2 linked regions of the Homo sapiens genome follow. The protein of the gene in region 1 interacts with the protein of each later gene in a biochemical or structural test. Each region holds a gene or a part of one and is shown on either strand. Other genes may lie near its edges.

Region 1 (4,887 bases):
GAATATTCTCTGGGGGGATAGTTATGAAAAAATTCAGAATCAGTGTGTGTGGAGCTGCAAAACTCTACTTGGGATCATCTGTCTTTGGTTACCTCCTATTTCTTTCCCTGTTTGCACTGGGCTGTGAAAATTCTGATGTGGCAGGACTAACTGTCTCCTACCAAGGGTATGTTCCCTCATTAAATAGTTTGAGGATATTGGTTTGTTTAATTAAATCAATTATTGGTGGAGTTGCAAAAAAGGAATTTGATTTTTAAACATCATAACTATGGTAAGCAACTTAGTATTTTATTGTGGAATAACTGACAATACCTAGAATCTGTTATTGTCACCAAAATTTATCATCTCCTTTGATTGTAGAGAAATATAAAAATTGCTAAACCCATATTTTACACTAGAGAACCAACCTGATTAATTTAGAAAAACAACATGATAGCAGAAATACAAACCTTGAATAATGCCTCTGTCTATTCTTAATGAAATGATGTACATGTGGTTTAAACTAATCCAACTTCAATTTTCCCATCTTAAAAACAGAAGTAATAACTACCTTTTAAACTTTTGTAAGGTTTAAGCAAGCTAACATACATGAAAGTGAATGCTACTTGCCTGACACAAGCTAAATGTGCCATTCATGGAAACAATTGTTTTCTTCCTCCTTTGAACATCTGAGGAACTGGAGTTACCTCTTTGCAATCCTCCATAGTTGCTGTTGTGCTTGAATCATGTAAAGTTTCAGGAAACAACGCCTGTCCTTCAACCCAGTGTTCCCCATAAAAGTTCTCTTTAGCTGAGTGTCTTGCAATTGGTCAGGAGAATATTTAGTGATGCCTTCAGGCCTCTCATCTTGTATGGGGTGGGTGATTACATTGCTTGGTTTCCAGAGTCTCTCTCAATACAAGGTTGAATCTTGTAGGAACTATATTGCCCTTGCCCATTGAGAGTCTTTCCCATCACTCTACCACTTCACATGAATTTCCAGAGGTAACTTTCTTCATCATTTCACCTATATATGCATTATTTGTTTTCTAAAAAAATTATCGAGTCTCCATCATGTGCCAGGAAGGCCTTCCCAACTGTATCTGCCTGGCCACCTGAAACTCTGCCTGTGGCTCAAAAGCAAACACTCCTGACACTATATTCTGTTTCCTGCCTATTCTGTGGCTTCTTGCTTACAGCCTGCTGTCCATCTCCCGTCCTACTCTTGCTTCCCTGCTTATCTGTCTTGTCTCTATGTTCCAACTTCCATCACCTTTATTAACCTGGTTTCATCTGCTGCTAAATGAGCGCCTGTTATAGTTTTGGCCATCTACAATGTTCAGGAAGATTGGTGAATGCAAAGTTCATAAATTACGGCTTCTGGGAGTTATCACAGCCACATTGTTAGACTCAGCTGAGTGTAGTGCTGCCTTAGTGAAAGTCAGTGATATGGATTAAGAATGTTAGTTGTAACAATGAAATGGAAGATGATTCTGGAGAGAGCAGAAGCCCAGTGCCATCTTTAACTGTCCCAGAAATCCTCACGGTAGAGGGACAGTTGTAGAGGACTTTATAGTTTGTGATTTCCAAAACACCTTAACTTTCATGATCTCATTATATCCTCAAAACACCTTTATGAGTTTAGTTTTGTTATCCTTGTTTAAAAGAAACTGCATGGATCTGGGGTTTGAACACAGGCGTGACTCAAAGTAGAACATTCTTTCTGCATCATAATTTCTAAGCCAAAAGTAAACACAAAGCAGACAACAAAAGCAAACTTTGAGATTCCCATTAAAAGTATTCCTACATAATCAAAGATTAAATATTTTAAACAAATAAAAGGTAACATTTTCATTGAGTGAGTACTAGCCTCTTCAAAGGAGTCACCTTGAAAGACTATAATTGTATTGCAGTAATGCTACTGTTGTTTAAAATATTCTAAGACTCTTATTTTGAATTTCTTTGTATATTTTTGAGAATATTCTTAACAAGGGCAAAGATTTAACCTTTAAGGAAAAGCTCTCATCTTTCAGCATAACTATCTTGAAAGGAAATCTCATTTGGGCATAAACATTCTGGCATATTTGTTAAAACTCGTCTTATAATTAAAATTCTAAATTACAAATCTACTGTCAGCACATCCTTCAGAAAAGATGTATCCCAATGATTCCTGCCCCTGATGATAAATTAAACTTTCAATACTATAAAGTATTTTTCTTTATAAAATATAAAATGTTTCCCATGGGTTTTTCCATGTTGCTTTATTCCAAACGCTGTCTTGACCTGAATATTCAATAGGAAAACTGAAGACAAGTCTTAGATATGATAATGGAAGAAATCTCTCTTCTGCAATAACAAGGACAACTCTGATGTGGACATAAGAATTTACAATCAAGAAACCTGGCAGGGTTCAGTTTCCAGGTTTGTCACTAGCAAGCAGTGTGAATTTGAGCATGTTACCCACCCACGTAGGGGCTGACTTCCTTGATCTGCCAAGTAAGAGGTTGGCATAGATTACTCCAATGTTCCCTCCAGCTCCAACCTTCTATAATCTCAGCCCTACAGTTTCCAGAGTTAAATGATTCTAGACTTTAAAAGGCAGTTTTATACTTTCAGATAATACAAACAGTCTCAGTTAACAATTAAAATTTTATGGAAGAGAATAGGATTAAACATTCCTATAGCACATCTCAGAAGGCCTAGTTCAGTACCCTTTCACACTATTTGGAGACATCTCAGAGGTCTTTGGTTTGTACTTTTGAGGTGACAAAATTCATCATACCAGTTCTACTAGATGAAGTATTACACTGATTAAGAAATTATGGTTGCCATCATTAATGACAATACTTCTCAGAGGCAGAGGCTCAAGTGATTAATTTATTTCTCCAAAATAAAGTACCATTTTTTAATTGACTAACTTACTGGAAATTTTGTTTCTTAGCTTGCTGTGTGACAGGAATTATTCCTGGTTCTGGACATATGGGAGTGAATACAAAAATAGTTCCTGCCTCTCTTGATTGTACAGTTCAGTGTATTTTTTGTTTGTTTAAGCTCCTCAGCTATCTTTATAAAAAATGGGAGGAAAGATATGAGGAATAAGCAAATAAATAAATTTGAAAATAAGGAGCAGAAAAAATGAAGTATGGAGGGCCAATGAATGGCACATATGGTGCAGATAGAAATGACATACCATTGCAAAAGTTCCTTTTGAGAAGAGTAGAGGAATATGAATAGCAAAAAAAAGGATAAAAGCAGAAGGATTAGGCCATTCAGGTGACAGAAAAAAAAGTGAGGGAGAGAGAATACTGGGAGAGATGAAGGATAAATATAAAAGCGAATGGCAGAGAACAAAAAAAAATGAAGGAGAAAAGAAAGAATGCAATCACAATTTTGTGAAATAACTCAAAAAAACCAATTTTGGGGGGGGGTGCAAATTTTGTCTCATTAATGTTTGTAACCATCTCCTATTCTCCCGGAGCTAGCACTTAGTAGGCTTCCAGTAAAATTTTATCAACAAATAAATGGGTAAGTCATTGAACTTACTTGTGAATTTGAGTAAGAAAGGATGCTATAAGATATGAAAGAGCACTATACACTGGGAGGATACACAGGAGAAAGGTTGAATGAACTGGGAATGCACTTGTTGGTTACACACATGCAAGAGGACATGTAACTCCTGCAAACACTGAAAGAGAATTAACTGATAACTGATTGGCTATTTTTCCTTTTACTGGACCATTAGTAATATCCATTCCACTCATACTTAGACAACAATTCTGAATGAAATTTGCACACACACAACACACACACACACCCCACCTGTGATGCATTGAAGTAGTGTCATAAATTGCTCTAAAAGTTTACTTTTCTACCTTGTTAGCTATTTTTATACACCTTTGCACAGAAGTATATTAGAAGATCCTAGAGGCTGTAGACTGAAAGCTATAAGCTAAGAACTGGACATCATGTGAATTTGTAAACCTCTAAAGATAACTTTCAAGAGAAAGCTGTTTATTAGTAAACTCACATTTCATGACCAGAAGCTGCCATTTCTGATGACAACTGTGTTTCTAAAAGGCAAATTTTGTTCATAGTATCATTTATATCACTCAAGAACATTGATTTTTTGAAAATATTCGGGTGCTACCTGCTAAGAGGTAATATTTTATATTGTTATATTTCTTTTCAGAACCAAACCTGTCTCTTATCATGAACGAGCTCTCTTTTCAGATTGCAACTCAAGATGCAAATGTTCAGAGACAAAATGGGAACCCATGTGCGGTGAAAATGGAATCACATATGTATCAGCTTGTCTTGCTGGTTGTCAAACCTCCAACAGGAGTGGAAAAAATATTGTAAGAAATCACCTCTCAAGTATATGGCGATGGTCCTGTTACAATATAAACAACAAAACTCTATGGGGGCTCACAGCAGACCACTACTAGTAGGAGGCTTGCCTCTTACCTCTGCCTGGTCCTTTTTTGTAGAAAAAGAAAATGTTATAACCATTCCTAGTGGTACTGGAGTTGCTGAAAAAATTAGGGTGAGAATTAGAGTCATCAAATAGGGTGGAAGAGATTTTGTAATTATGTAGTCTATTTCTCTCATTTTGCTTATAAGAAGTGTTAGCCCTGAATTAGAATGTCTGTCGTATGATCATCATAATAAGATATGCTTTCAGATCCATGTCCCCTGGCCCTAAGATCCGTGGTCCTTGGAGGTTTTAGGGAATGAACAAATAGAGGCCAGTATTAGGAGGCTTAGCTCCAGAGATTCTAGACCTTGGGGTCAGGGATCTGATAATGAGGAGGTTGATGGTTCTAGGACAACTTTGGAAAATCAAGCCAATTTGTATAATAATGAAAGGGCAGGTGGGCTGGAATGGAGGGTTTCCATAGGGCAGAAGAG
Region 2 (4,887 bases), on another chromosome or scaffold:
TGATCCAAAGAGGTGCAGTGAAAAACAACAGACAAAAACCAACAACAAACAAGACTTCCCACTTATACTCTTCTCGATGATGGAATTTGTGGAGAATTCTCTCCCTCTCTGCGCTTGAGATTCCTTGATGGTAAAATGAGGGAGTCTGGACTAGATGATCTTCAAGGTCCCGTCCAGCTTGGATGTTCTGGGATAAAGTTACCTGACCCAACTAACAGGTACCCAGTGAGTGTCCTTGCTCAGCTTCTCTAAGACCACTTTGAGCTGGCTGTAGGCACCCTGGAGATCCTCCTTCACCAGCACGGCGTCTACCAGGTGCCCGTAATGCCGGTCTATGAAGGCGGCAGAAGCGGCCATCTCTTGCTGCTGCTCATCCTGCAAGGAAAGGGGTGGTAAAAGGAGCAACTGGGTTGTTCTCCTATAACAAACCTATAACCTTTGTCTTGAGCAATGTTCCAACCTTTAACTTTTAAGTGATGAGTGGATGACTAGGTCCCACTGATAACCAACTGTGTACACAAGAACAGAGCATAGGGACAACATCATGTCAAACTTCAAAGAAAGTTAATGGGCAGTAGACACAATCACTGTTCAGTCATTCACTCACAGAATACCTCCTGAGGACCTATGAACTCAAAGCCACGATAGGAAGTGCATTGGGGATGCTGATTCTATAACTGTGTATATATGCTAATATCACACTTCCTGCCTCAGAAGTACTTCCAAAGAAGTAGTAGTATTGTGCCGCATGACATTCAGTACACAGGTTAAATAATTATAAGAAAGAACTATAAATAATAACTATATAAAAACAGAGCAAACATTTCTGCAATCAACTGGTGGAAGAAGGAGAAGAAATCATTCTAATGCCCTCCTGAAGACTCCTAAATTCACAGTGCAGAACTCAATTCACTTCCTCACACCAGAGCCAAACACTAGCACAGCAAAGTGGAGTTATTTAAGAAAGCACTGGACAATTCTAATCAAATTCCCCATTTCCTTAGGGCAGCTGATCTCTTTAATCAGATTGCTTTTCTGACACTTAACATTAAGGTATAGGCAACAACTCCATCTTACACAATGTGGGCACTGTTTGCATCTTCATTCAAAAGAACCTCTAATAAGTATTATTTCAAGTGAGTAGTTGTCTGACAATTAGCCTGGTTTTGGAAAACAGGAAAGTGGCAGGCCCATTCTAAGTAAAATTACAAAATAAAATTTGTCGCTGGCATTCACTCACTGCCCTTTTTAGTTCTCTGTTGCTGTCTCCCCTCTGCTTCTAGGGGCTCAGTGTTTTCATGCTGCCACAGGGAAAGGGTGAGTTCTGTTCTCTCCCAAAGAGACCTACATTCCAAATATTCCCCCCTCTTCTCTGTCACCAGTCAAAACCCAATTCCTACATTAGTGAGAGCATCTGAAATTTCAGGATTCGAGTCCTCAAGATCCAGGAAAAGGGTTTGGCATGCTACTTCAAAGATAGTAGAAATGTAAGAGAAGGCTGAGATAATTTCTTCTCCTTTTCTCCTCCAGGAGGGAAAAAATTCGATTAAATTGGGAGACACTTCTCAATTCTATATTCTATATAGAATATTCTTGCAGGGCTACTTTCATACTCAGAAGCCCTATCCCGTAACTGCCCCCGGATCTTCAACCCCACCTTCCCCACTCCCTGACACACACCCATCCTATAGACCTGTCTGCTGCTTCCAGTTTCCCCTCCTCCAGGCACCCACACGGTTCATCCTGGAAGCATTTGGCTATTTGAGAAATTACAGAAGGAAAATTTTTGCCACAAAGAACCACAATCTACCTAATAAATATCTGCATCTGGAAAGAACTTAAGTAAATCTCTAATGGAGTAAAAACGTGTGACATTTGCTTAGCAGTCATAAATCCCCTGAACTCCTTTCCTGGCCTGTAACGATGGAACTCGCCCACCTGTGTCTTCAGCAAGAGTCACAGTCCCGAAGATCACATAGGAAAGATTCCCCTGTGCTGTCCGTCACCCCCAGGTTGGATCAGCTTTGCCGGGTCAGAAGCCAGAAGCCCCATTAACTTGTGGTCAGCAAGGAAACAGAGGATGTTTTGGGTCCCCTACCAGGAACTCAGGTGCCAGACAATGGACAGATATTTAAAGTTACACAAAACCCATGCCTTTGTGAGGAATTTCTCCAAATGTCATCTGGGGTCTGCCAACATACATCAAAACCACATGAAAGGCTGTGTGTTAAAAATGGAGTGCCTGGGCCCCACTCCAAACCCCCTAGGTCGGAATCTCTGGGAGTAGAACCGGGGACTCTGTGTTGAACAGCCTCACTGTGACCCTGCTGCCTACTCACAGCTGCAGTGTGGTGGAGCATGAACGGGCCAGCTGCATTTCATCATCAGCCCACCTGCTTGGAATGCAGCATTCTGGTGGGCAATAAAGGAGATGGGATAGATGACAAAACCGGCCAGGCTGGAAGGACACTGGGAATAGAATGCAGCTGCTTCTCTTGAAATAACAACCATGGGCCAGGGAGGGTTCTGAATCCTAGAAAGCTGGCACTGCCTGTGGACCTGATGATTTGGCCTTGAGTCCTAGGAAGCTGCCTCTTATTCTCCCAGTGACTTCTTGACTCTTTGAAAAATGAGCCATTTCCCCCTGCTTATTCAATCCTGAAATATTTGCAAAACAAAACAAAGCCAATATAGTAAAACAAATGGGCAGATTGATCCTAAAATTCATATGGAAATGTAAAGGACCCAGAATAGCCAAAACAAGCTTGAAAAACCTGACTTCAAAACTTACTACAAAGCTAGTAATCAAAGTAAGACAGTGTGGTGCTGGCCTAAGAATAGACATGTAGACCAATGGAATGGGACTGAGACTCCAGAAAGAAACCCTTACTTTTCTTGCCAATTGATTCTAGACAAGGGTGTTAAAATAATTAAATGAGAAAATAGTCTTTTCAACCAGTGATGCTGGGGTAACTGGCTATCCACATGCAAAGAATGAAGTTGGACCCCTACTTCAGACAATCCACAGAAAATAACACAAAATAGATGACAGATCCAAATGTAACTGCTACAACTATAAATATCTTAAAAGAAAACAAAGGAGTAAATCTTTATGGCCTTGGATTCGACAATGATTTCTTAGATATGACACCAAAAATATAAATGACAAAAGAAAAAATAGATACATTGGACTTTATCACATTTTAAAATGTTATGCCTCAAAGGATGCTATCAAGAAAGTAAGGACCAGGCGTGGTGCCTCCCAGCACTTTGGGAGGCCGAGGCAGGTGGATCACCCAGGTCAGGAGTTCGAGACCAGCCTGGCCAACGTGGTAAAACCCCATCTCTACTAAAAATACGAAGGAAATTAGCCGAGCATGATGGCATGCGCCTGTAATCCCAGCTACTTGGAGGTTGAGGCAGGAGAATCACTCGAACCTGGGAGCTGGAGGTTGCAGTGAGCCAACACCGCACCATTGCGCTCCAGCCTGGGCAACAAGAACGAAACTCTGTCTCAAAAAAAAAGAAAGTGAAAAGACAACTCAGAATGGGAAAAAATATTTGCAAATCATGCATCTGACAAGGGACTTGTATCCAAATAGATAAAGAATTCTTACAACTCAATAACAAAAAATGGACATTTAAAAATGGACAAAGTATTTGAACAGACATTTCTCCAAGAAAGATATAAAAATGGCCAATAAACACATGAAAAGATGCTCAACTTCACTGATGATTAGAGAAATGCAAATTAAAACCACAATGAGATACCACTTCACACCTACTAGTAGTGCTATGATTAAAAAGACAGACAATAACAAGGGCTGGTGAGGATGTGGAGAAATGGGAACTCTTGAACACTGCTGCTGGGAATGTAAAATGGTACAGCTGCCATGGTAGAGTTAAACATAGAACTACCCTATGACCCAGCAATTCCATACCAAGGTATACACCCAAGAGAAATGAAAACATATGTTCACACAAAAACTTGTATATGAACATTCATAACATGATTCATAATAGCTGAAAAGGTAGAAACAATCTAAATGTCCATTAATCGATAAATGGGTAAACAAAATGTGGTACTCTATACAATGGAATGTTATTCAGCCATAAAAAAAGAATGAAGTATTGATACATGAATGAACTTTAAAAACATTATATTAAGTGAAAAAAGCCAGATACAAAAGGTCTTACATTGCATGAATCCATTTATATGAAATGTTTAGAATAGACAAATTTATAGTGACAGTAGATTAGCAGTTGCCTGTGGCTAGGAAGGGGCTGGAGGAAAACAGATAATGGGAAATTCTAATGGGCTCAAGGTTTCTTTTTGAAGTGATGAAAATACTCTTAAATTGACTGTGGTAGTTGCAACAACTCTGTGAATACATCATTGAATTGTATGCTTTAAATGTGTGAATTGTACAGTATGTAAATTTTATCTCAGTAAAGCTGTTAACTCCCCCTCCAAAAAACACACAGAAAACAAAACAAAATTTAGTCATGAGCCCACTATTCAGGGAGAATTGCCTTTAGCGTTTTAGTGTATTTTGTGTGTAACACAAAATTAGAATCCTGATTTTTTATTTTGATTTATTTTTTCTTGTATTTAGCTATGTCATCAAATATTCCTCCAACACATGGCTTTTATTTATTTATTTAATTAATTTATTTTTTTGAGACAGAGTCTTGCTCTGTCGCCCAGGCTGAAGTACAGTGGTGCAATCTCAGCTCACTGAAAACTCTGCCTCCCAGGTTCAAGTGATTTTCCTGCCTCAGCCTCCCGAGTAGCTGGGATTACAGATGCCTGCCACCACGCCCAGCTAATTTTTGTATTTTTAGTAGAGACGGGGTTTCACCATGTTGGCCAGGCTGATCTCGAAC

The links. The genes of interacting proteins can lie anywhere in the genome.
Region 2: the proteins of SLCO1C1 (region 1) and MPP3 interact in a test that uses a peptide from one of them, tested with the Homo sapiens proteins (one large-scale study listed by IntAct).

What each region holds. Positions count from the first base shown.
Region 1 is NC_000012.12:20,732,939-20,737,825, forward strand, and holds part of SLCO1C1 (solute carrier organic anion transporter family member 1C1), read left to right. Parts: coding exon 1-166; intron 167-4,168; coding exon 4,169-4,334; intron 4,335-4,887. UniProt on the Homo sapiens protein: Mediates the Na(+)-independent high affinity transport of organic anions such as the thyroid hormones L-thyroxine (T4), L-thyroxine sulfate (T4S), and 3,3',5'-triiodo-L-thyronine (reverse T3, rT3) at the plasma membrane.
Region 2 is NC_000017.11:43,801,503-43,806,389, forward strand, and holds part of MPP3 (MAGUK p55 subfamily member 3), read right to left. Parts: intron 376-4,887; coding exon 199-375; 3' UTR 1-198. UniProt on the Homo sapiens protein: Participates in cell spreading through the phosphoinositide-3-kinase (PI3K) pathway by connecting CADM1 to DLG1 and the regulatory subunit of phosphoinositide-3-kinase (PI3K). Stabilizes HTR2C at the plasma membrane and prevents its desensitization.